Homo sapiens: one gene and its partners. The protein of the gene in region 1 purifies or fractionates together with the protein of each later gene. This does not show direct contact. Each region holds a gene or a part of one and is shown in the gene's direction. Other genes may lie near its edges. The genes, in order: SLC20A1, PALS2, ADCY9 and LIN7A.

The links.
Region 2: the proteins of SLC20A1 (region 1) and PALS2 purify together in Homo sapiens (affinity purification with mass spectrometry; 3 studies listed by BioGRID and IntAct, with this or other methods). This does not show direct contact.
Region 3: the proteins of SLC20A1 (region 1) and ADCY9 purify together in Homo sapiens (affinity purification with mass spectrometry; 2 studies listed by BioGRID and IntAct, with this or other methods). This does not show direct contact.
Region 4: the proteins of SLC20A1 (region 1) and LIN7A purify together in Homo sapiens (affinity purification with mass spectrometry; 3 studies listed by BioGRID and IntAct, with this or other methods). This does not show direct contact.

The regions. Positions count from the first base shown.
Region 1 is NC_000002.12:112,641,087-112,648,958, forward strand, and holds the start of SLC20A1 (sodium-dependent phosphate transporter 1), read left to right. Parts: upstream 1-4,852; 5' UTR 4,853-5,043; intron 5,044-5,476; 5' UTR 5,477-5,742; coding exon 5,743-6,076; intron 6,077-6,237; coding exon 6,238-6,378; intron 6,379-6,566; coding exon 6,567-6,652; intron 6,653-7,872. UniProt on the Homo sapiens protein: Sodium-phosphate symporter which preferentially transports the monovalent form of phosphate with a stoichiometry of two sodium ions per phosphate ion. May play a role in extracellular matrix and cartilage calcification as well as in vascular calcification.
Region 2 is NC_000007.14:24,674,439-24,681,461, forward strand, and holds part of PALS2 (protein PALS2), read left to right. Parts: intron 1-4,692; coding exon 4,693-4,895; intron 4,896-5,953; coding exon 5,954-6,082; intron 6,083-7,023.
Region 3 is NC_000016.10:3,966,439-3,973,461, reverse strand, and holds part of ADCY9 (adenylate cyclase type 9), read left to right. Parts: intron 1-6,495; coding exon 6,496-7,023. UniProt on the Homo sapiens protein: Adenylyl cyclase that catalyzes the formation of the signaling molecule cAMP in response to activation of G protein-coupled receptors.
Region 4 is NC_000012.12:80,934,935-80,942,522, reverse strand, and holds the start of LIN7A (protein lin-7 homolog A), read left to right. Parts: upstream 1-4,588; 5' UTR 4,589-4,800; coding exon 4,801-4,882; intron 4,883-6,689; exon of another isoform or gene 6,690-6,787; intron 6,788-7,588. UniProt on the Homo sapiens protein: Plays a role in establishing and maintaining the asymmetric distribution of channels and receptors at the plasma membrane of polarized cells.

The DNA.
Region 1 (7,872 bases):
AGTTTCCAGCAAGTTGCCTTTCTTCCCTGTTTAAGAGCTGAGAAAACTGGGCCTTGGGGAAAGCGAGAAGTCCCAGTTTAAGTCACCAGAGACGTCTTCCTAAAGAAGTATTCAGGATGCTGTGCTATCCAGAAGCTGGCTCCAGAGACACCTGGACCATTTCAAGCTCTAAGAACTGTGCTTCTGTTCCCTCTGCCTGGCTCCTATGCCATATCACACCCACATGTGTGAACTCAAAGCCAAAGGGAAGAGACCAGGCCATGTGCAGCCAGGACAGAGGCATGTAAAATCTAGAGAGGGTGGGCCAACCTCCCATACTCCTGTGTTGGCGGAGAAATAGACCCACCAGTTTGTCTGGCACAACCAAAACTCAGCTTTCTTGCCATGGGATGCTGGCCTGAGACCAGTCACAACCAGTCTCAACCAGTCTCCATATCAGGGCTTGGCTGTCTGGGTGCTTTCAAGCACCCTTCCCCCACCTGGATCCCAAGCATCCCTTGGACTCTGCCAGGACAGAGCCACAGATGCCGGGGGAAATGGGAAATGACTGGAGACACAGAGGACAGCCACATTCAAAGCTGGTGGGAAAGTGGTGGTGGTGACATGTGGCCCTTGCCTGAAACATTATTTTGAATTTATTTCCTGTAGGAATTGACTACAGGTGGGTTTTGTCTTGCAAGATAGGTTTCCTTTCTTGAGAAATCTCAAGAGAACAGAGTTTTCAGTAACTCTAAGACACGGTTAGGCCACTGCAACAACTTTATTTCTGGAGAGAACATGTGCTCTGGCTTCCTGCCTCTTCCTACTCTGGGGAAACTGGGGCCAATCTCGAAGACTGATCTCCTAGAAATGTCCTTTTTTATTCCAACAGGGTTTGATGCAGCTCAAAATACAGGCTGTAAAAGCAACAGAGTTAATAAAAAGGAGGGGGAAAGAAGGAGGAAGTAAATGTGTTAAGTGCAAATAAGAGTTGGCACCTAGGGCAATCATACTTGCCTCAGTACTTGCTGGCATCCTGGGAAAAGGCACTTACAATCTTGAAATTTGTTAGGTTCTTCGCAGCTTTAACTGCCGCTTCCTTCTCTGTGCCTCCGTTTCTCTGTCTATAAAGTAAGGGGAAAATACCTCATCTGAGATTTATTGAGAGCATCACCTGAGATAATCCATGCAGAGCACCTGAAATAGTACCTGGCACACAGTAAGCATTCAACTGCATCACAGATATTATTATTATTATTATTTTGAGATGGAGTTTTGCTCTTGTTGCCCAGGCTGGAGTGCAATGGCACGATCTTGGCTCACCGCAATCTCCGCCTCCCGGGTTCAAGTGATTCTCCTGCCTCAGCCTCCCAAGTAGCTGGGATTACAGCCATGCACCACCGTGCCCAACTAATTTTTGTATTTTTAGTAGAGACAGGGTTTCTCCATGTTGATAGGCTGGTCTCGAACTCCCGTCCTCAGGTGATCCACCCGCCTTGGCCTCCCAAAATGCTGGGATTACAAGCTTGAGCCACCATGTCCAGCTACAGGTATTATTATTACCTCATTCATCTGGGGATGGGGAGGGCATTGGTGGGTGGAGAGGAGCTGGTTCTCCTTTACTCCAAGGCTCCTACCTTCTCTTCCCTGGATGTTCTCGCCCCTGCTCCCATGCAAGTCCTCACAGACGGCCTCTGAAGCCGCCTTTGTTCCTGGTCTGGTTCCACAACGTTCCCATGCCCACTTGAGCTCCCTCTACTCCAAGTAGACTATTTCCAGGATGAGTACTTCAAGTACATCGAACAGTGACCTCAAATGCATTTCCTTGACTGTGCCTCTCTGAACTAAAAAGTGCAGAAATGTCATTGCTTCCTTCTTTTGTCTGGTCTTCCACAGGGCTAGGTTGGGATCCGGGGGGAGAGTAGCTTTCCTAGCTCTCAGCAGCTCAACTCCACCGAATTAGTGAACGATGGACATGTCCCCAAGAGGACTCTAAACCCACAGTCCCCAACATGGTGTTCTGCAGCATGCCACAGGTCATCTTGTTCTGTCCTCTCTGAGGGTGAGGTTGGAGAGGGACCCTAGGCTCACAGGCTCAGTGACAGTGACTCACCAAAGATCCTGTGGGCAGTCAGGGTCTGGGCCAGGCCAGTGAGCCCATTCATATGGCATGAGCCACAACACTGTTCCTCTTCCTCCGGCAGCAGCCCGTTTTGCGTGTCCCCTCACTATGAGCCGTGGGAGAAATTTGAAAGGGCTTGGATCAGAGGGCAGGGAGAAGAGGGTGGTCCTGACATCTGACACATACTTCATTTTAAACATGGGCTATGTATGACAGGCCTTCAGCTAGTTATTGAACAAAGAGAATAAGAGCCCTTTTACAAGGGCTTTACATATATTCATTCATTTGGTCCTCACAACAGCACTGTGAGTTAGAAGTCTCAATCTCACCCCTTTACAGATCAGGAAACTGAGGCAGATAATTTATTTGCCTATGGTCACAGGACTAGTGAGTGACAGAGCAGGTGGTTTGGTCTTACAGTCTATGTGTTTAACCACTACACCAAACCACCTCCCTAAGATGCTAGAGGGGGTTTGTGCCAATGCCTGGATTCTAAGAGATTAGATTCTCTTTAGGATCTCTGACCTGTTTCCTCAGCATTCAGAGATAAGGCCAGAAACAATGCCATTTGTGCACGAACTGACAACTGACGGTCCTCCTACCTCCTATTTCTATTTAAAAGGCACTGTAACTTCTTTCCACAGGCAGATCCCTACCTCTCCTCCCTTAGGGGAGGACGAAGGTGTCCCAGCCAAGGAAGATCCTGGTCTCCAAGGGCTGTACCCTACTGATCCGGAGGCAAAGCAGTGAGGGCCCACCCCAATTCCTCACCTCCCATTCTACTCTTCGGCAGAAGCATCTCAGTGTTGGAAAGATAAGGATTTCTTCCTAAAAAGGAAGGATTACACTATATCAGAGTCTGAAGATACAGTTTTCATTTGCAACGCAAGGGAATTCCTTTGAATCTCTACCTTATGATTTCCCTGCAAACCCACTCCGATGGGGCTGGAGAGTGCTCTCTCACTCAGATGAATCTCTCAGGGGTTGTCCAGCAGGTGTTTGCCAACTTGAAGAGCTACCTACTATCACAGACCTATAAAAGTACGCCTGTGGACAGACTGAAAACAAACAAACAAAACACACACACAAACACACAAAACAACCGCACACTGGGAGAAGTTCTAGGCAATTTCCTTGCAAATAACTGCTTTGAAAATTACTGTTTTAAATTGGCAGAACACTAAGGACTTTGAACAGATCATCCCTTTTACTCAATGTTTTCATAACCTTGAAGTGAAGGTGGAGGGAGCAGTACGTTTTAAGGTGCCAGGATTACACTACGGGGTCAGTGCTCCCGGATATGAACTTTCTTTTTCAGACCGACCTTGGGACCTACAGCTTTGTAAGTTACTCATACAACTCCATCAAATGTTACAGGTAGGTCAGAGGACATTCAGGTTGTTTAAGCCTCTATAAATGACTCAGGCAGCAACAATTTACAACGTCTTTGTTTCTGCTATGCAGTGCCCTCCTGCTAGAGATGGCAAAAATGTGGGGAGGGCTTCAGAGCATTCTAAGCCTGGTATTTCTGGCTGGAATTTTTAAATCTCACTACAATCCTGACAAGAGACCACGACCTTAATCTCCCACGGCATGACTGGTTAGTCTTGATCGTAAGCCATATAATCAACACCCAAATGTGCATAACACATCTAAATAATGTCAAAACTACACTATATACCACGCAGGGGACCAGAAATCAATCTTTACCTCAAAAGGATAAGCTTCCAGGATGCAATAACATCCCCTTCCACCCTTTTCTACACCCTAAAACAGTAATATTCACGGTAACAGCAAAGCGGAAATCAGCTTTTCCTGAACATGTACTGAATTCTAGTCACATTCACACACGTTAATTCATTTAATTCCAGCCACAAGGTAGGCAGCCTCTGTTAACATTTTACAATTGTGAGAACGCAGAGATCTGGGACTGGCTCAAGGTGACACACTGCAGCAAGGAGTCAGAATTTGAATCCGAAGCAGTGTCCTTCCCCCTCGCAACAGCTGCGGCGTTACAAACACAGGTCAGCCACGGAGAAATTAATGACCCACAGCCATCCTTGCAGCTCTGCGCCATAACTGGGGAGACAAGCTGGTTCCCGTGACTCTTCAGTCTGTTTTCACCCAAGTGCATGACTGCGGGAGCAAAGCGACCACGTGAGCATCCCCCCCCCACCCCCCCGCTTCCCCCAGGCGAGGGACAGTGCCAGGCCAAGGACAAGTCACAGGTGCAACAACGTGCCAGAACTGGATCCGGAGCCCCAGGGCGCAAGATCTCCCGCAGCGTCACCCGGCAGAGGGACGGGTGTGGCCACCGGGCGCGGCAGGTCCTGCGTGCGCTGAAAGTGCGGCTGGAGGCGCGGACGGCTTTCCGGAGCCCCGAGAGAGGAGCTAGGAATGACTTTGGTCGCAGCCTCTGTAACCCCGCATGACGGCCTCTAGGGGGACAGCGAGGTCCCCCTCGATCTCTGGCTGTAATCAGCCGGCGGGGCCAGACGGTGCCGAGACTCCAGGGCGAGGCCGCAGGGAGGGGGCTGTCCCGCCCCACGTGGACCGGCTCCCCGCTGGGGGCGTGGCCGCCGAAGCGGGCCGGGCCAATGAGCGCCACCGTCGGGCTCACCCGGCTGGGCACGCCGGGCCGAGGAGGGCTGCGTCATGCCGGGGGCGGGGCTTCGGGGCCGGCGCGAGGCGCGGCGGGGTCACGCGGGTCGCTGCGCGGGCTATAAGTAGGGGCCGGCGGGGTGCTCCGCTGGAGTGATGGCTGCCGGCGCTCTCTGCGTGGTTCTTCTTCTCGGCCGCTGAAACCCCCGCGGCTGCTTCCTGGGAAGGTCGTGAGTCCCGCTGAGCTGTCCCCGGTGCCGCCGACCCGGGCCGTGTGCCCGTGGCTCCAGCCGCTGTCGCCTCGATCTCCTCGTCTCCCGCTCCGCCCTCCCTTTTCCCTGGTGAGTAGTGGCGCCGCCTCGTAAAGGCTCTTTCTTCTCCCCGGGGCCGGGCGCGGACGCCGTGGCGCTGGAGGCGGACGCCGTGGGCGGCGCGGCTGGCTTCTCTCTTCGCCGCTGGCCGCCTCCACTCCGCCCGTCTGCCCGCCCGCGGGCCTTTTTGGCGGTCCCCGGGCGGCGCGCGCGGGAACGGCCCTTTTCCGATTTTCGCGCGGAGGGCGCGCGCGGGCTGGCAGCGCAGGGGCTGGGCTGGGCGCGCGCGGGCCGCGGAGGACCCGGAGCCACGTGCCTCTCCTTCTCGCGCGTCCTACTGGGGATGGGGGTCTGGAGTAGCCGGCAGAGGCTATTGCGGGACCCCGGGCGCGTGGGTAGAGCGGGGTGCCCCACTGGCCCCCCAGGGGCACGCAGCTATTGTTATTTCCCCCCTCCCCCGCAGGATGAACTTGCGTCCTTTCTCTTCTCCGCCATGGAATTCTGCTCCGTGCTTTTAGCCCTCCTGAGCCAAAGAAACCCCAGACAACAGATGCCCATACGCAGCGTATAGCAGTAACTCCCCAGCTCGGTTTCTGTGCCGTAGTTTACAGTATTTAATTTTATATAATATATATTATTTATTATAGCATTTTTGATACCTCATATTCTGTTTACACATCTTGAAAGGCGCTCAGTAGTTCTCTTACTAAACAACCACTACTCCAGAGAATGGCAACGCTGATTACCAGTACTACAGCTGCTACCGCCGCTTCTGGTCCTTTGGTGGACTACCTATGGATGCTCATCCTGGGCTTCATTATTGCATTTGTCTTGGCATTCTCCGTGGGAGCCAATGATGTAGCAAATTCTTTTGGTACAGCTGTGGGCTCAGGTGTAGTGACCCTGAAGCAAGCCTGCATCCTAGCTAGCATCTTTGAAACAGTGGGCTCTGTCTTACTGGGGGCCAAAGTGAGCGAAACCATCCGGAAGGGCTTGATTGACGTGGAGATGTACAACTCGACTCAAGGGCTGCTGATGGCCGGCTCAGTCAGTGCTATGTTTGGTAAGTTCTTTTTATGTTTTGTCCTCTTCGTGGTGGGTGAGCAAATTTGTATCATGGGTGGTTCCATTTTTGTGCATAACCTTTCCGATTAACCTTTCTGAATGTGCCACTTACATAATGGAATTTTGATATTTACTTAATAAAACTTTACTATGTTTCAGGTTCTGCTGTGTGGCAACTCGTGGCTTCGTTTTTGAAGCTCCCTATTTCTGGAACCCATTGTATTGTTGGTGCAACTATTGGTTTCTCCCTCGTGGCAAAGGGGCAGGAGGGTGTCAAGTGGTCTGAACTGATAAAAATTGGTATGTTTAATTCCAAACGGCTTCTTAATTTTCGTTTTCGTCATATGTTACCATGGCATTAGGTATGGGAGGATGTGTTCTAACGTCGAGGGACAGACCCAAGAATTTTGAACTCTTAAACATTTAAAGTGGTTTTTGGTTTCTGATTTTCATTATTTGATATTTTTTCTTAATGTGTTCTATTCCAGTGATGTCTTGGTTCGTGTCCCCACTGCTTTCTGGAATTATGTCTGGAATTTTATTCTTCCTGGTTCGTGCATTCATCCTCCATAAGGTAACCTTTCTCCCCCGTATGAAGACCTTTCATGGAGCACACCCAATCGATTTCAAACCCAGTGGTACTTTTGCAGATGTGATTGGTGTATAGGTATGCGGCCTTGGAAAATTTTAAAAAGCTCTTTGTTCTGTGCATTTCTTGTATGTTGTGGAGTTCTCTGAAAGCGAGTTTTTAATACTCAAGAGGGCAGTCAGGAAGGAAAAATTGAATACTATGATGTGCCAAGAAGTAGGAGAAACTGGGAGCAAAAAAATAAGGAAATTTATTTTGCGTGGTTTTGTGTAGCTGTATACACATTATTTGTTTAAACCACTGTTATATTCAGGCTAATATAATACGTAAACTTGGAGTTCAAGACAGTGTCCCCTGTGGCTTTTTTAACTAAGCTGCCAGTTAAATGGGTCTCTGCCGTGCTGATTATCATAACCAGTTTATAAGCTTCTAGATGAGGACTCTGCCTCCCATAGTGACTTGACTCCAATTTCTCAGAATAGTTGAAAAGAACCAGTTAAAGGTAGTTTTTGGCCCGCCCCCCAAAAAAACTTCAGGCAGCCATTTAATTTCCTGTCCATTTGAAAATCCCTTTTAAGTGACCCAGTTTGCATTTCTTTTATCAAGAAGTCTTGCTGGCTGCAAAATAAATGTTGACAAGGGATTATGTTGGCATAGGACTGAGTTACAGTGAGGATAAATGCATTTTTCTCAGGAAACAAAGTTGTCCTTTTTCTAAGGTGAATGGCTCTTAACAATCCATTGTAAGTTCTTAAAAGTGTTCCTAAACTGTAGAAATCTGAGGGAGATAGCATAAATCCCAGCAGGTAAGAATGTATTCAGACCCACTTGTCTGGTCTAGTTGTAAGCTTCTCTAGGGAAAGATTTGTCTCTTCTCTGTAGAAATTCTATGACTAGTAAAGTGATTCACTAATCACTGTTTTCCATAGCCAGAATCTGGCAGAATATAGCAGTTTAACACTTTGAAAACTTGAAATATCTTTAGCCTGGTATAATATGAGAGTAAACAGTTCATTGATATTTATGGACTCCTAAGTTTGGTACTGTTTTATTCAGCAGACAGGTACGATAAGCATCTACCTTCCCACTCCCTACAACTGTAGTGTATGATACTGGGATGCTTAAATTAGAGGCTCACCAGTAGTCATGGACCAGATTTTTTTGTTTTTTTTAGAGTTTTCATTAGAACTGTATATCTTGCTACT
Region 2 (7,023 bases), on another chromosome or scaffold:
TAGCTTTTAAGACAATTATCAAGGGCTTAAAGCCCTCCACAGAACCTTTTCTTAGAATGAATGGGTTTAGTTCAACCATCATACATCTTCAGGGTAATGAACATGCTGCTGGACAACTGGCACTCTGGAAGAGCCTGGTCAGCTCTGTCTGTAACTGTGCTCTTCAACAGCACCATCTCCTCTCAAAGTATTTTCTTTCACTTGTGATTGCTTGTTTGATCCATTGGTTATTTGGGAGTATATTGCTTATTTTCCATATATTTTTGAATTTCTAAAATTTTCTGTTATAAAATTAAGGTGATTTAACTTTCTTTATATATTACAAAATGATCCTAAGATAAAATAGAAAAACATTGTTATTTTAGGGAGATGGGCTATGTTATGCATCCTGTTTTCAATTTAACATTGACATCTTGACATCTTGAGCTTAGTTAACAAATGAAGTATTACTTTGTTGATTGTGTCTTCATTATTTGAAGAGCAGCTAAAATTGAGAATTTTGCCTATCATAAAAAATTACTTCTAAAAAATCACATTATGTAGTTGCGCAGTATAGAAGTCTAAGGAATCAGTTGTAGTCAAACCTTCATGTTCTAATTTCTCTGTTCTAGAAATGGAAAGCAGTTTAAATATGTGGCAACGTAGATTGTTTTTTGAAGTGTTAGTAGAGAATAGGATTGTAGTTAAAATTCACTTGTAAACTAAAGAACATTTCTCTAAGAATTAAGATTCCCTCAGCATGGAGGTAGAGGTAATACATGTGCATATACATATTTATTTCAAGCAGCGCATTCCCCTATATGGTTTCACTGTAGGACTTCACCGAAAAAACATTAATTTTTAAAATTAATGTTCACAATGTTGAACCAAGTCCTATTATGCATTTATTTGGGGAGTTACAAGTTGCCTTAGAAGTTTTTTTATTTTTTTATTTTTTTAAGGTTTTTTTTTTTCCCCTCTTATTATTATACTTTTAAGTTTTAGGGTACATGTGCACAATGTGCAGGTTAGTTACATATGTATACATGTGCCATGGTGGTGTGCTGCACCCATTAACTCGTCATCTAGCATTAGGTATATCTCCCAGTGCTATCCCTCCCCCCTCCCCCCACCCCACAACAGTCCCCAGAGTGTGATGTTCCCCTTCCTGTGTCCATGTGTTCTCATTGTTCAGTTCCCACCTATGAGTGAGAATATGCGGTGTTTGGTTTTTTGTTCTTGCGATAGTTTACTGAGAATGATGATTTCCAATTTCATCCATGTCCCTACAAAGGACATGAACTCATCATTTTTTATGGCTGCATAGTATTCCATGGTGTATATGTGCCACATTTTCTTAATCCAGTCTATCATTGTTGGACATTTGGATTGGTTCCAAGTCTTTGCTATTATGAATAATGCCGCAATAAACATACGTGTGCATGTGTCTTTATAGTAGCATGATTTATAGTCCTTTGGGTATATACCCAGTAATGGGATGGCTGGGTCAAATGGTATTTCTAGTTCTAGATCCTTGAGGAATCGCCACACTGACTTCCAGAATGGTTGAACTAGTTTACAGTCCCACCAACAGTGTAAAAGTGTTCCTATTTCTCCACATCCTCTCCAGCACCTGTTGTTTCCTGACTTTTTAATGATTGCCATTCTAACTGGTGTGAGATGGTATCTCATTGTGGTTTTGATTTGCATTTCTCTGATGGCCAGTGATGGTGAGCATTTTTTCATGTGTTTTTTGGCTGCATAAGTGTCTGTCCATGTCCTTCGCCCACTTTTTGATGGGGTTGTTTGTTTTTTTCTTGTAAATTTGTTTGAGTTCATTGTAGATTCTGGATATTAGCCCTTTGTCAGATGAGTAGGTTGGGAAAATTTTCTCCCATTTTGTAGGTTGCCTGTTCACTCTGATGGTAGTTTCTTTTCCTGTGCAGAAGCTCTTTAGTTTAATTAGATCCCATTTGTCAATTTTGTCTTTTGTTGCCATTGCTTTTGGTGTTTTAGACATGAAGTGCTTGCCCATGCCTGTGTCCTGAATGGTAACGCCTAGGTTTTCTTCTAGGGTTTTTATGGTTTTAGGTCTAACGTTTAAGTCTTTAATCCATCTTGAATTGATTTTTGTATAAGGTGTAAGGAAGGGATCCAGTTTCAGCTTTCTATGTATGGCTAGCCAGTGGTCCCAGCACCATTTATTAAATAGGGAATCCTTTCCCCATTGCTTGTTTTTCTCAGGTTTGTCAAAGATCAGATAGTTGTAGATACGCGGCGTTATTTCTGAGGGCTCTGTTCTGTTCCATTGATCTGTATCTCTGTTTTGGTACCAGTCCCATGCTGTTTTGGTTACTGTAGCCTTGTAGTATAGTTTGAAGTCAGGTAGTGTGATGCCTCCAGCTTTGTTCTTTTGGCTTAGGATTGACTTGGTGATGCAGGCTCTCTTTTGGTTCCATATGAACTTTAAAGTAGTTTTTTCGAATTCTGTGAAGAAAGGCATTGGTAGCTTGATGGGGATGGCATTGAGTCTGTAAATTACCTTGGGCAGTATGGCCATTTTCACGATATTGATTCTTCCTACCCATGAGCATGGAATGTTCTTGCATTTGTTTGTATCCTCTTTTATTTCGTTGAGCAGTGGTTTGTAGTTCTCCTTGAAGAGGTCCTTCACATCCCTTGTAAGTTGGATTCCTAGGTATTTTATTCCTTTGAAGCAATTGTGAATGGGAGTTCACTCATGATTTGGCTCTCTGTCTGTTGTTGGTGTATAAGAATGCTTGTGATTTTTATGCATTGATTTTGTATCCTGAGACTTTGCTGAAGTTGCTTATCAGCTTAAGGAGATTTTGGGCTGAGACAATGGGGTTTTCTAGATATACAATCACGTCATCTGCAAACAGGGACAATTTGACTTCCTCTTTTCCTAATTGAATACCCTTTATTTCCTTCTCTTGCCTAATTGCCCTGGCCAGAACTTCCAACACTATGTTGAATAGGAGTGGTGAGAGAGGGCATCCCTGTCTTGTGCCAGTTTTCAAAGGGAATGCTTCCAGTTTTTGCCCATTCAGTATGATATTGGCTGTGGGTTTGTCATAGATAGCTCTTATTATTTTGAGATACGTCCCATCAATACCTAATTTATTGAGAGTTTTTAGCATGAAGGGCTGTTGAATTTTGTCAAAGGCCTTTTCTGCATCTATTGAGATAATCATGTGGTTTTTGTCTTTGGTTCTGTTTATATGCTGGATTACATTTATTGAGAAGTTTTATTATACACACCTTTGGTGACTAATTCCAGAAACCTTAAAGATCACACAGTTTTAAATATGAAAAGCCATCATAGCATCTTGAAGATTCTCAAAGATACTTTATAAATACTCTTCACAGTAGTCTAAGACGACCACTCTCAAGGTTGAGCCAGAAAACAAGGGGAAAACAGGAGTCCTATTATACATAATGATCTCATTTGACCCTTATTTTTGAGCATGAGTTTGAAGTTCATTTTGTTCTTATAAAAGTTTTCTATGTCTTAGGCTTATTAGAAATAGTCAAAACACTGTCATCTTTTTATTCGGATTACTTTCTTAGTTTAGTTTGGTGTAGTTAATAATTCCATCAGTTATTCTCCAACTACTTAGCTAATAGAAACAGGATACTTCTTATATCCGATCCAGCAAAGCCCAGAGTAAGGCTAAGCTTGAAATAACACGCTCAAAAATTACTTTTCTTCTTCAAAGCTGTTGTTAACAAAGTTGTCAGAGAGTACACATTTGCAACAGTTTAAAAAATGGTAATAACCGTTCCTAGCACAGACCAACTTGCAAAGGGTTGTATGTCTCTGAAAGTATTCAAAGCTGTAAAATATCAGACAAAAGGATCTCCTACTTCTAAATTTTGACTTGAGCTATTCAATCTCATTTTCCCAGAAATAATATGTCAGGTCAGAGGAGAGGAGGTTAATAGACCATAATAATAATGAGGCGTCTAGCTCTACCACTGAAGTATAAAATAGAACAGTTAACATTTGGGAATATCAATAAACAGGAAGCTAAAAGCGTTGGTTTTGAGGTAAGATAAAAGATAGATAATTTGTGGGTAAAACTGCACTTTACAAAATTGGTATCACAACTAAGAACAGGTGAACTTTGCTTGCTCACGTTTTGGGGCAGTTAGGAAGTGTTAATGTGGAAAGAAAAGATGTAATAGATTCCTAAGGAGAAGGAGAGTGCTGGTCAGTTGAAAAGATACTCACTCACAACATGCCTCAAACACTTACCATAATTAAGAACTTCATTGAAGGCTCTGCTGCTAGGTAAATATACTTTGAGTTTCAAAGTGATTTTAAGAAGCATATTTTTGGATACAAATTTTATTTGGGGGACTACCTCTTAAAATATTCCCCTAAGGTATCAAGAAACTTTTCTATTAAAGGGCCACATGGTAAAGTTTTAGGCTTCGCAGTCCATACAGTCTGTCACAATTACTACCACCATTTTAATGGGAAAGAAACCATGTATGATACATAAACAAATGAGTATGGCTGTGGTCCAATAAAACTTTATTTACAAAAATAAGAAGCAGATCAGATCTGGTCATAGCCTACAGTTTGCTGCACCCAGTGGAAAAACGTTAAGCCACCCTATGTATTTTAGTCTATTTTTTATGCCCTAAAATTTCTTTGTACAAAAATCTCAACACTATTTTATTTAGTTACTTCACGGAAACCAAGGGAAGATGAAAAAGATGGCCAGGCATATAAGTTTGTGTCACGATCTGAGATGGAAGCAGATATTAAAGCTGGAAAGTATTTGGAACATGGGGAATATGAAGGAAATCTCTATGGAACCAAAATTGATTCTATTCTTGAGGTTGTCCAAACTGGACGGACTTGCATTCTGGATGTCAACCCACAAGTAAGCTGCTTGGATTCCAAAGCTGTTTTATATTTTATTTTCTGTGGAGTTTTTTTCATGTGTGTCGGGGTTGTTGGGTTGGGGTTGTTTGTTTTGTCAGGGTGGAAAGGTGACTCCCTCCATTACCTTTGGGTGATAGAGAATGTTATTATGTATACATAGCTAGTTAAATAAATCTCTGAACAATTAGCCAACAGAGGCTTGGGTGGCAATAGAAACTGTGTGATTAGATCTACAATAGAAGTTTAGTATGTATTTATTTACCTGTTCAAGTAATGCATAAGTGCTTGTGTTAAGAAATGTTAAGTTTAAAACTCAAGTCTGCAATATAAAGAATAAAAAATTAAAGTCACTCCCCCTCCTACCTGACACACATGCACACCTCTACACTATTCATTTTGTCACTCTATATTTCTGTCACCTACCCCTTCCCACTCCGCTACACTCAGCCCAACCTCACGTCCCTACTCAGAGATAAAAATTGTTAATAGTTTCTTATGTCTCTTTCTAGTCATTTCACTATGCCTTAAATACAAATATATATAAGGTAATGGGTTTTCTGTTTTTGTTGTTTCTTTTTACATAAATGGAAAAATTCTATATAGATTCTTCAGGGGTTTTATTAAATAGAACTATTCCTTGGAGATCTTTTTGTGGTAGTTACTGTAGAGCTTTTTTTCTTTGTAATTGCTATATAGTATGAATATATATTCATTTAACCACTCTCCAATTAATCAACATTGAGGTTATTTCTACTTTTTGAGTATTAACAGAATTCTACAATTAACATAAAAAAGAGTTTACATCACTCTTGATGATTTTTGGATCATTGTTTTATACTTTGTTCAAGAGGAACAGACTGAGTTCAAAACAAAATAAATGGATCACTGTTTTAAGAAAGTACTATATGGAATGAGAAGGACAGAACAGGGATAAGTATTAAGTTATGTCCTTTAATTCATAGAACAAGTGCAAACAGCCTTTGATATATACTAAAGGGTAGCAGAATTCTAGTTCTAATATTGTATAAATTGGCTTATAATTATTCTTTTACACAGGCACTGAAAGTATTGAGGACATCAGAGTTTATGCCCTATGTGGTATTTATTGCGGCTCCGGAGCTAGAGACGTTACGTGCCATGCACAAGGCTGTGGTGGATGCAGGAATCACTACCAAGCTTCTGACCGTGAGCTAACCATACGATTTTCCTTCTAAAATCTTTCCTTTTCTTTTGAGCATGTTTAACTGTTATCTAATTTATTTTTATTTATTTATTTTTGAGGCAGAGTTTTGCTTTGTCACCCAGGCTGGAGTGCATTGATGCGATCTCAGCTCGTTGCAACCTCCCCGTCCCGGGTTCAAGCGATTCTCCTGCCTCAGCCTCCCAAGTAGCTGGGATTACAGGCATGCGCTACCAGGCCTGGCTAATTTTTGTATTTTTAGTAGAGACGGGGTTTCACCATGTTGGCCAGACTGGTCTTGAACTCCTGACCTCAGGCAATCTGCCCACCTCGGCCTCCCAAAGTGCTAGAACTACAGGCGTGAGCCACCGTGCCTGGCCAACTCTTAGCTAATTATGCTTATGAAATAAACATGCTATATAAGGTGCTACAGAATGAAAATTAATTAGATGTAGTTAGGATCTGGAACAGTATTCTTTTACTTGAAAATCATTGTACACTTTATTTTAAATCAAAAGTTTAGTTCCCCTTTGTAAAATGAAATGGACCAATATTAAAATATGCGTATTAATTGAACGCCTTCATTTTACTAGTGGGGTAACTGGGCTCCGAGATCATTAACAGGCATGTTTATTATATGGTTTATCATTGGTAAAGTGGGGTGTTCTGATGTTTAGTTTCTATTACATGTTTTTTCCTTTTTTTCCTGTCTACTTTTTTACTTAATGGAAATTCAAAAATATATACAAAAGAGGGAATAAATGAGTCCCTATGCCGATCGCCTAGCTTCAATAATCGTGGCAATTTCTTGTTTTAATTAGACCCCTCCCCACTTCCTCCTCACCTTGAATTATTTTGAAGCAAATCTTTGATATCATGTCATCTGTAAATACTTCAGTATTTATATCTAAGAGATAAAGACATTTAAAACATACCATTAATACAA
Region 3 (7,023 bases), on another chromosome or scaffold:
GCCAAGGCAGGTGGATCACCTGAGATCAGGAGTTCAAGACCAGCCTGGCCAACATGGCAAAACCCCGTCTCTACTAAAAATACAAAAATTAGCTGGGGTGGTGGTGGGCACCTGTAATCCTAGCCACTTGGGAGGCTGAGGCAGGAGAATTGCTTGAACCTGGGAAGCGGAGGTTGCAGTGAGCCAAGATCGGCCACTGCACTCCAGCCTGGGCGACAGAGTGAGACTCTGTCTCAAAAAATAAAATAAAATAAAAAAAAGATTCATTAGCAACTGTAGTTGTCAATAATAAATAAATTAACTGATTATACATTTACTCAAATAATACAACTGTTAAAATGCAGTAAATATGGAAAACATTTAAGATTTTCATTTACTAGGTGAAACTATATATGTACTATAGGTACAACTAGGTATTTATATATAGTAAAAATATGTACAAGATTTATACTTAGGATATAATGAATGAGTGATGATTACAGCTTTAGTACTTAAAAGTAAAGCACCTAGCATCTTTTTTTAACCTTTTATTGATGTGTATGTCAGTATGCACAGAAGAGTACCTGATCATAAAAGGACAGCTCAGTGCATTTTCACCAGAGAACACACCCATTTAACTACCACCCAGACCAAGAAGTAGAGCATTACCACTACCCCAGAAGCCCTCCAACCCCACCGCTGCTGACCCCCTCTCCCCCGACCTGACCACCTCCCTAGGGGCAGATTTTAAATGGCACTGAAATATACCAAAGTGTCAACCGAAGCCACGTTTGGCTGGTTAGGACTGCAAGTGATGTTTGCTTTCTATTTTTTTCAGTTTTTCAATCCCTCTTCTCCATGATAACGGATTACACTGTATTTTACTCTAACTTCCATTTATGACTTATAAATTAACTCCTGCATTTAGTCACATGAAATGCCTCTTTTTGAGCCAGGTGTGGTGGCTCACGCCTGTAATCCCAACACTTTGGGAGGCTGAGGCAGGTGGATCACCTGAGGTCAGGAGTTCGAGACCAGCCTGACCAACATGTTTGTGAAACCCCATCTCTACTAAAAATACAAAAATTAGCTGGACGTGGTGGCGGGCACCTGTAATCCCAGCTACTCGGGAGGCTGAGGCAGGAGAATTGCTAGAACCCGGGAGGCAGAGGTTGCAGTGAGCCTAGATCGCACCACTGCACTCCAGCCTGGGGGACAGAGCAAGACTCCATCTCAAAAAAAAAAAAAGAAAAGAAAAAGAAATTCTTCTTTTTGAAGTGGATCTTTGCTATTTGAATTTAGGAATAGGATCGGCTCCTTTGTTCCTTTGGTATTAAAATAGGAAACACACATTCTAGCTGGGAAGCTGTCCTCGTACCTGTTTCTTACAGATGCCTTCTGTTGCGAGGCAGCCCCCTTGGTTTCTGAGTGCACATGCTGTGTGTGATGGCTTTTCTTCCTTGGAAGCAAAGGTGGAAAGCAAACGCTGTGCTCTGCCTTCCTCTCCCTCTGGCACTAGCCCATGTGCTGCTGTCCCTCCTCTGCCTGGAGGGGCCTGGCCTGCGCCCGTCTCGAGTCAGCTGTGCTGCTGGCTCCGGCTCCCGCAGATTAGAGTGAGCTGTACAAGCGATAACTGATTGAGAAGCCCAGATACAGTCTCCCATTTCCACCACAGAGACTGGAAACACCCCCTGCACATAATGGGGATGTTAGACCTTGGTGACACCTGCTCCTAAAGGGGACTGTTCTTGGTGTCACCACTTTGAGAAACCAAAAGAAAGGTCAACTCCTAACCCAACGAGCGGGGCTCACAAAACCTTCCCCCAGTCCATATTCTCTTCCTGCTCTATTTACAATCAACCAGAGGGCTCATGGAGCTGGACAGAAATATGTTTGAGTCATCATCGTAACAAATGGTTATTTTGCTTAGTACTTGAGATGTAGGATATGTAATGTCATCTGTTTCAATAGCAGTTCACGAAATGAGTCAGTGAAGCACAGGGTGTCTTCCCACTGAGGACTCTTGGTTCCTGGTCATAGGCGTTGAGTCACAAAGCCCGTATCAGGGCTCCCAAGACCAGCCCCAGGTGGACTCAGGACTCCGCAATCTGCTCTCTCACCGCTGTGATTACAGCGAAAAGACATAAGGCAGAATCAGCAAAGGGAAGGGTGTGTGAGTTGACGTTTGGAGGAAGCCGGCACCAGCTTCCAAGAGTCCTCTCCCGGTAGAGTCACACGGGATGGGCTTAATTCCTCCAGCAGTGAGTGGTGACAACACTTGTAACATGCTGCCTACCAGGGAAGCTCATTAAAGTCTCGGTGTCCAGGCTTGTATTAGGGGCTGTTCAGGTCTCCCGCCTCTGCCCAGCACGTGCCTAAATTCCAGACTTCCAGCAGGAAAGCGGGTATTCAGCGTAAACCTCCTTATTTAGACAGTGTAGGCAGTGTGAGCCGCTCTTATCAAGGAATGGCAGGAACCCTCCCCAAATCCCAGCTCCCTGGTGCCAGCCACCACCTTTGCAGGCAGGTCTTTCCAAGGATGGCAGCCTCAGGCCTTTCCTGCACGGAACCTTAGGCTGGAAGGGACGTAGCCATGCTCCAGTCCATCTTCACAGCTTACAAGCGAGGAAACTGAGACCCAGAAAGATGGCATGGCTTACCCAAGATTCTGAAACTCCCCCGCGGTCCAGCCAGGATGGGGCCCAGGGGTTCTGTTCCACCCACGGCCAGGGCTTTTGGCGGTTGTGCTTCGCAGAGGGCCGTGATGGCCACACAGGTCAAGCTCATTGTTTTTTAATATCCCAAGAACAGTTAGTGAAACTTATTAGACACTTTGATTAAAGGACTGAGCTTTTGGCCGGGCATGGTGGCTCGTGCCTGTAATCCCAGCACTTTGGGAGGCCAAGGCGGGTGGATCACCTGAGGTCAGGAGTTCCAGACCAACCTGGTCAACATGGTGAAACCCTGTCTCTACTAAAAAATACAAAAATTAGCCAAGTATGGTGGCGCACACCTGTAGTCCCAGCTACTCGGGAGGCTGAGGCAAGAGAATCACTTGAACCTGGAAGCGGAGGTTGCAGTGAGCCAAGGTCGCGCCATTGCACTCCAGCCAGGGCAACAGAGCAAGAAAGAAAAAAGAAGAATTGAGTTTTGGCCAGGCGTGGTGGCTCATCCCTGTAATCCCAGCACTTGGGGAGGCTAAGGCAGGCAGATTGGTTGAGCTCAGGAGTTCAAGACCAGCCTGGGCAAGATGGCGAGACCCTGTCTCTAAAAGAAAAAGAATTGAGCTTTCCAGTGTGATGGAGCTGTCTAAACTGTGGATCCGCCAGTCGCATATATAAGTATATAGTGACCAAGCCCATTATTGCATCAAATCAACTGGCCTACTCTGTGCGCGGGAGGAATGCATCAGGGTACAGCATTTACATGAACAGAACAGTCACGGTGTTGTAAAAAAGAAAAAGACTAGAATGCAGTTCAACAAATGTTAATAGTGATTGCCTCTGGATGGCAGGACGATGGACAAATCTTTTTTGTCTATTTTTTTCTACATTTTCTATGATGAGTATGTAGTATTTTTAAATGGGAAAAAATGTATTCCAGCACACTGGGGAGGCAGAAGCAGAACAGTTTGAACCCAGGAGTTTGAGACCAGCCTGGGCAACATAGTAAGACCTCATCTCTACAAAAAGTTCAAAAAATTAGCCAGGTGTGGTGGTGTGTGCCTGTAGTCCCAGCTAATCTGGAGGCTGAGGCGGGAGGATCGCTTTAGCCTGGGAGGTCAAAGCTGCAGTGAGCTAGGATCGCACCACTGCAGTCCAGCTTGGATGACAGAGACAGACCCTGTCTCTTCTTAAAAAAAAAAAAAAATACATATATATATATATATATATATATATATATATATATATATTTCAAACAAACTTTAAGAAATTGTGCTACTCAGCCAGGTGTGGTGGCTCACACCTGTAATCCCAGCACTTTGGGAGGTCGAGGCGGGCAGATCACTTTAGGTCAGGAGTTTGAGACCAGCCCAGCCAACATGGTGAAACCCCGTTTCTACCAAAAAAAAAATACAAAAATTAGCTGGGCCTGGTGGCGCACACTACTCAGGAGGCTGGGCCGCAAGAATCGTTGAGCCCAGGAGGTGGAGGTTGCAGTGAGCTGAGATCACACCACTGCATGCCAGCCCGGGCTAGAGAGTGAGACTCTGTCTCAAAAAAGAAAAAAGAAAAAGAAAAAAAGAAATTGTGCTACTCACCACTCATCTGCAGCCCCCTGACCATGGCTGTCTCCATCAGTGCCACTGAAGTGGAGACAGCCCCGCTGAAAGCAGGCTCAGTTATCAAAGGGAGCAGAGACTGGGCGCGGTGGCTCACGCCTGTGATCCCAGCACTTTGGGAGGCCGAGGCGGGTGGATCACGAGGTCACGAGTTTGAGACCAACCTGTCTCTAGTAAAAGTACAAAAATAATCTGGGCATGGTGGCGTGCACCTGTAGTCCGAGCTACACAGAAGGCTGAAGCAGGAGAATTGCTTGAACCCAGGAGGCGGAGTTTGTGGTGAGGCGAGATCACGCCACTGCACTTTAACCTGGGCAACAAAGCGAGACTCCTTCTCAAAAAAAAGAAAAAAAAAAGCAGAAACTGGTTCAGCCTTGTTTAGAAGGGCAATTTGGAAATTTCTAAGGAAATTCTAAATGTGCAATATTTAAAATGACTCAGCACTTCCATACGCACAAAGATAGGGGTAGGGGAATATTCCCTGTGACACTGTTTGTGGTAAGAAAAGACAGACTCGGGCCCAGTTCCATCAGGGGGAATCTGGCTAAATTACAGAATTTCCGAGTGCTGGAACACTGCACAGCCATGAGAAAATAATGGCACTGGTTCAGATGTTAGCATTGTCCTGAGTGATTTCGGCAAAAAGAACTAACCCAGAATCAGGGGAGATGGCGTCTTGTCAAACTTTTTTATACAGGTAGAGAGTATAGAACTCATAAAAGCTATTTGTAAAATGATAAGTTTATTGGATTAGAAATCTAAGAACCAAGGCCAGGCGCGGTGGCTCACACCTGTAATCCCAGCACTTTGGGAGGCTGAGGTGGGCGGATCACCTGAGGTCGGGAGTTTGAGACAAGCCTGACCAACATGGAGAAACCCCGTCTCTACTAAAAATACAAAATTAGCTGGGTGTGGTGGCACATGTCTGTGAACCCAGCTACTGGGGAGGCTGAGGCAGGAGAATCACTTGAACCCGGGAGGCGGAGGTTGTAGTGAGCCAAGATCTCACCAGCAACAAGAGCAAAACTCCGTCTCAAAAAAAAAGAAATCTAAGAACCAAATATATCAGAGAATGTTAAATTTCTTGGGTATGATGATGATATTGTAGTTACATAGGGAAATATCCTTATTCTTAGGAGATACATGCTGAAATATTTAGAGCTGAAGTGCCATGTCAGCAACTTACTTTCAAAAAGTTCATTCAGCAAAAAGCCGGGTGCAGTGGCTCACACCTGTAATCCCAGCACTTTAAGGCAAGCTGATCACTTTGAGATCAGGAGTTTGAGACCAGCCTGGCCAACATGATGAAACCCTGTCTCTACTAAAAATACAAAAATTAGCCAGGCATGGTGGCACACACCTATAGTCCCAGCTATTCAGGAGGCTGAGGCAGGAGGATCACTTGAACTCAGGAAGCAGAGGGTGCAGTGAGCCAAGATCGCACCACTGCACTCTAGCCTGGGCAACAGAGCAAGACTCAATCTTAAAAAAAAAAAAAAAAAAAGATGTTAGGCCAAGCACAGTTCAAGCCTGTAATCCCAGCACTTTGGAAGGCCAAGGTGGGAGGATGGCTTGAAGTTACGAGTTTAAGACCAGCCTTGGCAACCAGCAAGACCCTGTCTCTTCAAAAAAAAAATTTTTTAATTAGCTAGGTGTGGTGGTACATGCGTGTAATCCCAGCTACTTAGGAGGCTGGGCAGGAGGATCGTTTGAGCCCAGGAGTTTAAGGCTGCAGTGAGCCATGATTGTGCCATTGCACTCCAGCCTGGACAACAACCATGTCTCTAAAAAAACAAAGGAGAGAGAGAAAAGAAAAGATTTTTGAAAGAAGCTAAAGACTTCTAAAAAAAAAGAAAAAGAAAAAGAAAAGAAAAACGATTACCAAGCACTTACTAAAGATGTTAGTTACAGGGCTGGGCACAGCAGCTCACGCCTGTAATTCCAGCACTTTGGGAGGCCAAGGCAGGAAAATTGCTTGAGCCCAGGAGTGCAAGACCAGCCTGGGCAACACAGTGAGACCCCACCTCTATTTAACAAAATGAAATCAATCAGTTTCAAAAGTTAGTCTTTATCCCTCCATACCTTCAGCCAGCCCAAACCAGGAATGGGCAGCTTGACAGCTTCAGGTTGTTGAAGGCCTGGACTCAACAAAGCTTTGCGTAGCTAGCGGGGCTGTTCTGAGCTTGGAAGCGCCGAGCAGTAACCTCTCCCTTTCCCGTGTCTTTGCTCTCCAGTTCCGAGAGGAACCCGTGCAATAGTTCGGTGCCGCGTGACCTCCGGCGGCCCGCCAGCCTCATCGGCCAGGAGGTGGTTCTCGTCTTCTTTCTCCTGCTCTTGTTGGTCTGGTTCCTGAATCGCGAATTTGAAGTCAGCTACCGCCTCCACTACCACGGAGACGTGGAAGCGGATCTTCACCGCACCAAGATCCAGAGCATGCGGGACCAGGCAGACTGGCTGCTGAGGAACATCATCCCCTACCACGTGGCTGAGCAGCTGAAGGTGTCCCAGACCTACTCCAAGAACCATGACAGCGGAGGGGTGATCTTCGCCAGCATCGTCAACTTCAGCGAGTTCTACGAGGAGAACTACGAGGGCGGCAAGGAGTGCTACCGGGTCCTCAACGAGCTCATCGGGGACTTTGACGAGCTCCTAAGCAAGCCGGACTACAGCAGCATCGAGAAGATCAAGACCATCGGAGCCACGTACATGGCGGCGTCAGGGCTGAACACCGCGCAGGCCCAGGACGGCAGCCACCCGCAGGA
Region 4 (7,588 bases), on another chromosome or scaffold:
TTTAATTTCATCCGAAATATTTTAACATCTAACTCTGAATTAGTAACTCTTCATTCTGAAGTTAGTAATTTTTAATGCAGATGCTATGATACAAATATTTTTCTTAGCATAGATTGTATTCATACATTTTATTGTATGGTTGGCACAAAGAAATTAATGAAAGGTTCATTGTATTTCTGTTCATTAATTATATTACCTTCCACCACCTAACTCTCAATAGCTCTATTTAGGCTTGTTTTTTTTTTAATTATACTCCAAAATGAACTGCCGATTTTACCCAAATACACACTGTGCCTGCTTCCTCATCCCTGGCTTTTCTCTCCTGCTCCCTATAAGGCCATTCTCCCTATCCCTGTCTTTTGTAATTCTGACATTATTCTAGATCTAGTTTAGTCATCAATTTATTCATTCTTTGCACAATACTTAGTCACTAATTGCTCTCTTTCTTGTTTGTTTATTGACTTTCTCTTCCTTAGAGAATACAAGCCAAGTGAGAACAGGAAATTTTTCTTCTTCACTGCAATACCCCAATGCCTAGTACAGTGCTTGGCATATAGTCAGTATATTAAGTGTTTGTTGAATGAACAGACAAATAAGTAGTTATCAAAAAAAAAAGATAAACTAAATATAGTAAGATATTCTATGATGGTTTTAAAAAATAAACATTTAAATTTCAAAGTATTGGTTGGCACTTCATCTTAATCTAGTGCTGTTTTGACAAAGCTGTATGAATTAAGAAAGATAACATGTTATCTTGAATCAGTCAAAAACAATTTCTAACACCCAGGCTGAAAGAACTCCAGTTTGAAGGTGCTATTTTCTCATATGAAACTGTGCTCATTATACTTCATTTATAATCTAACTAAACACATTTCCTTGGTATGCTAATGCTCTATGCAAACCTTCTCTAGATTTTGTCATATAATTTTTAAAAATTCAATTAAGTGAAACCGACCTTAACATAGCTTTGAATGATTTTGTTAAGAACAGATTTTATATATCAAATAGGCAGTTGTTTAAATATTAACCTATATGTATATATAATGGAACCAGTATCATAGTTCTTTTGTCCTTTGACCTAACTTCCCTTCATCCATTCCTCTCTCTATGTCTCAAGCCAACACACACACAAAATAAAAGAGAGAGAGAAAAGACATGTGTGTGTGTATATATACATATAATATATCATATATATGTATTAAATATATTTCACATGTATTAAATACATTAATATTATATTAAAATATATTTATAATATATATTTATATCTCTTAAAAATATATATCTTAATAGATATATATTTATATATCTCTTAAAAGATTTTATAACCATATATATACTTATCTGGAATTCTGAAATAAAAGGCTGAAATCACTAAATCTTCAACAACATAGAATAAAGTGTGATGAGGCCCAGCGTGGTGGTTCATGCCTGTAATCCCAGCACTTTGGGAGGCTGAGGAGACGGATCACTTGAGGTCAGGAGTTCGAGGCCAGCCTGACCATAATGGTGAAGCCCCGCCTCCATAAAAAACACAAAAATTAGCTAGGCATGGTGGCGGGCGCCTGTAGGCCCAACTATTTGGGAGGCTGAGTCAGGAGAATCGCTTGAACCCCGCGGGCGAAGGTTGCAGTGAGCAGAAATCGCGCCACTGCACTGCAGCCTGTGCGACAGAGTGAGACTCCATCTCAAAAAAAAAAAAAAAAAAAAAAAAAGAACAAAGTGTGATGTTTCTTAGTGGAAAGCACAGGAGATTGTGAAGCCAGGTGCTACTATTCTTAAGCAAGTTGTGTAACCTCTGTGAGCTTCAGTTTACTTATCTTCAAAACGGCATAAAAATACCTACTTCTCTGGGCTGGAAAGAAAGGGAAAGAGAGACCAACTTAGCACCAAGTCTGGCACATATAAGTGCTCAATAAGTATTTATTGAATTAGTTAACTCCATGAAAATATAGTTACCATTAAACTAAATTTCTACATATCATTTAATGAAAGAGTGTAGTGATTTTGTAACCAAATAGCTAAGATAAAAGCATAATTACAAATATTTTAACAATTCTCAGGTAAATACACAGCAAAGCAACTGGCATGTGACTAGATCAAGTATATCCCTGCATGTCTCAAAACGAAATTCACAAATATTATTGGAGAGATAGTATTTATTCATAAAAACAAATTCTAATGGATAATGAATTTTTATTAATTTTCTACACCTGTGTAGACATAAGCTAAAGGGAATGAACTTTCCACTACTAAAAATAATAACAGATGAATTTATGGTGATTTATGCTTCCTTTTAATTTCTCTTTTAATCTTGATTTAAAAACAACAACAACCCTACAGAGTCAACACAGAGAAAGAATGACAGAGCAAATTTCAAATAGGAAGCTCAAGGCAGAAGTCCAGAAATATGCTATGAAATGTTTAGTCCTGAGGATGCATTAGGAAACAAAAAGACAAAGAAAACTCTACCTTCACTGACACCACAATCAGGGATTTGTGTTGGAATGGGTACAATTTATGACTTTTGGGCTGATGAATCAAGCTGCTTAAATACATATTCCCTAATAAAGGATGTTGTAAAATAACTACATTAGAAGTCAAGGGATTTGTATGTTCTTTTATCCTCAGTTACCGAGTGAGGTTTAATAACTTTGTGCAAAAGCTTGTAACACACTCTGGTATCATTGCGCTCATCTCAACTTCTTTCTGTTGCTTAATTCAGGGCATGTGAATAACGGTAAAAAACCAAAGTTGTTTTTGCAACCTCTGGCCACCGAGGGCACTTCCTTTTAATAGTGCTTAGAGTACTGCACAGAAGCTTATGGTTTGCTCACTGTCTCCCAAGCAAGACTGGGCAGAAAGGGGGCCATCTCATTAATCTTTGCATGGTTAGCACCTAGCACAGAGCTTACCACACGGTTCCAGGGGATGTATGCTTGTATAAATAAATTTGTATATTCTTTACTGTTTTCAAAGCACAGTCACATGTATGACTCCATTAGACCCTCATAAAACTCTGTGAGATTGCAAGGTAGAATTAGTTTCCTCATATGACAGATCTCTGTGACATTGAATGATATTATTTCCATTGTATGACAGAGGAGGAAACAGGATCAGTGAGAGATTGTGTGACTTCCGAAGAGTACATGACTAAGACTCAAATGTCAAGATCAGCATTCTTTCTTAAATACTAAATAAAAATAAACATATCGAACTACTATTTTAGGTTTGTTCTTAGGGTCTGTTAAGTCTATATATGGCCAATCATCTTTGGCTTTCCCACATTGGTGAAATGTTGTTTTTTAAAATTCAATTGTAGACTATAAAATGAAAAAGACCTTCAGAAATCCTATCTGTAATCAGAAGAAAATGGCATCAATTATATGCAAATATTTTGCTATAAAACAGTATCTGCCTTTTAGAGTTTATTGTTAGCCCAAACAATTCAGCTCTGTCACAGGAAACAAGATGGAGGCAGCTTTGTCATTTCCAATCCTGCACCCACAGTCACCCCTATTCAGCTTATAGAAGGTTTCTTTATGTTTCTTGATTTCGTAGTCAGGAAATGAATCCCTACTATGACAAGATAGTGAAAGTAGCCTTTTTATTGGGGCGAAGAGGTCACAGCCAGTATTTGAAGGCTCTCGTAATTTAATCCTGATCAACTGACTCTAAAGTCAGGTTTTTAATAACACCATCTCCCACTAGATTACAGGCTACAGGAAGTCGGAGACTAAATTGAACTCCTAAATCAAGGCGTGGCACAAGGCAATGTAACTCTTCTATCTCAATTCCTGGCATATATGTTAATCAATCGATAAGTGGCATCTCTGAACCACTGGTTAGAAATCAACATGAAAAGTGCTAGGTACATATTTTTCAAACGTAGTCATAGACAACCAAAATCAGTTTGGACATTAAGAGCAAAGTTTTTGTTGCTGGGTGGGTGAGGGGGAGTGGGGCATGTTTACAGGATGTGGTATGTAAAAAATTCGGAGAAAATCTGAACACTGTACTTGTTTCTAAGCTACATTTACTGAATTGGTAATGTATTAACAGTGGCTTGAAAAAGAAAAACTTAGCGATAGAAACTTACCTACACGTTTTTTATTTTGAAGCACTTTTAAGAGGTTTGCCTTTTTTTTTTTTTTTCTCCAGGCAATATACTCAGGTCCTAAATGAACATCTACTGATGGAACGCTGGCCTTTAGTCAGTTATCTTTATATGCCGTTATAGGTCAACATTCCGAAAAACTTCAACAGAAATTAACTGCAAATGTAATTACATCCCAAACATTTCTGATAATGGAAGCATTTTCTCTCTAAAGGGGATGGGATTATTGGATTGGCAATTTCTCTTAATCTGAGAAAACTCATCTCCCACTCCCTTCCCCATATCCCCTTTCCATCCTCTCTCTTCCCCTTATACACACACGCACCCGCATGCACACACGTATATTCTGACCATTTTATTAGAGTGGAAAGTTGAAAGGAAGCAACCCGCCAGCTACACCCACCCAGCGCTCCTGGGGGTGGAATAGCAAAGTTCTAGGGCAGAGCCTTCCCTCCCAGAGCCCGGCGATGCAGTCGCTCTCGGATACCTGCTCAGCTCCGCACCGCAACTGAAGATCTGCCGCCGCGGAACAGTTGCGTCTCCATCTGGCTACCAACCCACCCAAGCTTTCTTCTCCACCACCACCACCTTCCTTCCTTCCCCCTCCTCCCCCTCCTTTCCGTCTTCCCTCTCCACCCCCGCCCCCAATCTCCTCCTTTTTTTCTCACTACGAGCGGTTGCTGATGCTGAAGCCGAGCGTCACTTCGGCTCCCACGGCAGACATGGCGACATTGACAGTGGTCCAGCCGCTCACCCTGGACAGAGGTAAGGGAGCGGCTCGCTCGCCAGGCCACCGCGTCCCCTCTCCCCTCCTCCCTTCCCCGCCTGCCAATTCCCAACGGGACATGGGACGCGCTCAGGCAGGAGGAGAAGGGGAACGAGGACGAGCCAGGAAGGCGTTCGCGCCGAGAACAGAACACTTTCTTCCCCTTTCTCTCCCCGCTACGTTCCCGCTGCCCCTTCCCACTGTACTCGCCCCGCCGAGGGGACGCCTCCTTCTGGCTCTGGGGTCCCCGCTGCCACTCCCAGCCCCTCGCCGGGTCGTCTCCGGTCCTCTGGCTTTGTTGGAGCCGCTGCGCGGGGACGGCTATAGGCGCCAGGGGCTCGGGGTTGGAGAGGGGCAGAGAGCAAGCTCGCCCGGCCAGAGCCCAGAGGAGACCGGCGAGGGAGCCGCCTGTCAGCTTGCTTGGCGCAGGGGCCCGGGAGGAAGGAAGTTTGTCCAGGCGCCGGAGGGCGAGGGTCGGTCCAACTGCTGGAGTCCCGGCGGCCACTCGGGGGGCGGGCTGGGCGCACCCCTGGGCTGCCGGGCGCACAGTGGCGGGGCTGCAGCAGGCAGGGAGCTGCCCTCTGCCGAAAGGGCAAGGCAGAGCGCGGGGAGCCGAGCCCCAGCAGCCGAGATCGGCTCTCCGCGGCTTCGAGATCGAAAGCGGCGAGGGTCGCGTCTGCTCCCGCCGCCGGCAGCTCCCGGTCGATAGCAACTCTCGGCTTCTCCCGCGCCAGCCTCTCGTGTCCTCTCCCAGCTCGGTGCCACCGCGGCGCCCAGGCTGCGGAAGGCGCGGGGACAAAGCGCAGGTCGGGTTAAAATTCAACTTCTGACCTGCCACCCAGTGAGTCCTGCTCTCTGACTTGAACGGGGAAAGTGTTCGCTTCCTCCCCAGGACGCCCTCACAAGCTCAGGGATGGAGTCCTCCGCTGCGATCGGGGCCTCACTGGTGCACCCCTGTGGGGTTATACCTGTCCCTGAGTGTGTGGGTTTCCTTCCTGGCTCCAGCGTCCAGTGATGAAGGCGCTCGAGTCCTACGGCTCTGCAGAGGAGGACACCCTCTAGTCCCTCTCCGCAGCCGCCGGATTTAGGACCCTGGGCGGCCATTTGGAAATGGTGTACTCAGAAGAAAATGATTTAGTCCGATGTACCTCTAAAAATTTTCTTTCTAGAGGATTAAACTGAACGATGGGCAAGGCAAAAGAACATCCTGCTGAGAGTACAGTAACAAAGCCAGTGAACTCAGTTTGAGGTTTTTAATTTGGAGAGACTGTGGGTGACTTTAACGCAATCTGTTGGCGCCAGAACAGATGTTCTGTGGTGCCCATAGCAACCTTTCTTAGGGTAAGAGTTGAAAAATAAAATGTAATTGATTTTATATTAGAAAATGTTGATTTGTAAGCTGGCAAAATTAATAACAGTAGTTAAAGACCTCAGAAATCCATTGTATAATCCATGATTTTACCCACAATATCATCATCTGCACTAAGCAGGATAAATCCATTGCCGGTAAGAACCAAACAGATGGCAAGCTATCAGAAACTATGAGCTTCCCAAGTATTTATGTTTTAATGTAATGAGCTCTTATATTGTCCCATTACAAAATCACAGTCGTTAAACATCCCAAATCAAGTGACTATGTTAGGAGCAAAAACTCCAAGAAGATTGCATACCTGGGTCATTTTATATACTACCACTACTACTAATAATACAAATATTTCAATGTTGGGTTTTACCTTAGCCCTTAGATGCCTCAGTCGGTTGATGAGAGGAGGTGCTAATCGGACTAAGATTTATTTTTAAAGTTTGCTCTTGTTCACAGCCAAACTCTACTTGTCCTTCTGAGTGTAATTACGTACATGCAGTAGCTCAGGAGACAAGCAGGTTTACCCTGTGGATGAGTCTGAAAAAATTCATCAGCAGCTCATGGAAAATCTATAACCAAGAGATGATGGGTTATTGGCATCACCACTGAGCATAAAGTCAATATATATAAATATTGTTCTCCGTATCTTATTCAAATATGATTAATTACTTTCATTATTAAACTGATGAAGGAAAAGGTTCTAAAAATTTCCCTTCAAAAAAGGTGCATTTTTAAAGAGGCAACCCAGTATTACATATCTGGGTCCTAGCTGCAACTCTGATACTCACTCTGCATACATCAGCCTCTCTGGACATCAGATTCTCTCTGTGCCACATCAGGAGTTTGAATTAGATGATTCTAACACTGTGCAGCTTTAGCAGTCTATAATTCAATTAATTAGAGTTAGGACTCAGTTTTTGGTCACCTACTGGGAGATTTTCCAGATCACCTCTCTCCCAGGCTGCTTTGGTACCCTTTGATGCGCTCTAAATTGACTTGCTGCTTTGGCCCCATTAAAGCATTTATCACACTCTGTTGCATTTGTCTATCCCTATTGGATAGAACTCCGTGAGGGAAGAGACCATTTCTAAATTCATCTTTGAATTCTCAGTGTCTGCTATAGTCCCTGACTCACAGTACAATAAAAAAATAATGTTAAGTTGGTGTAAGTAAACTCAGGATAGCAGTAACTTAAGCAATGTTAAAATATAGTGATTTCCTAGTGAACTGAGGTGCATTTCATAGATTCACAGTATTTTAACCATGGAAAGGATGATAGTGATAACATAGGCCAGAGATTCTCAACCTAGCTTTCCCCTATACACTTGATGGATTGCCGTCA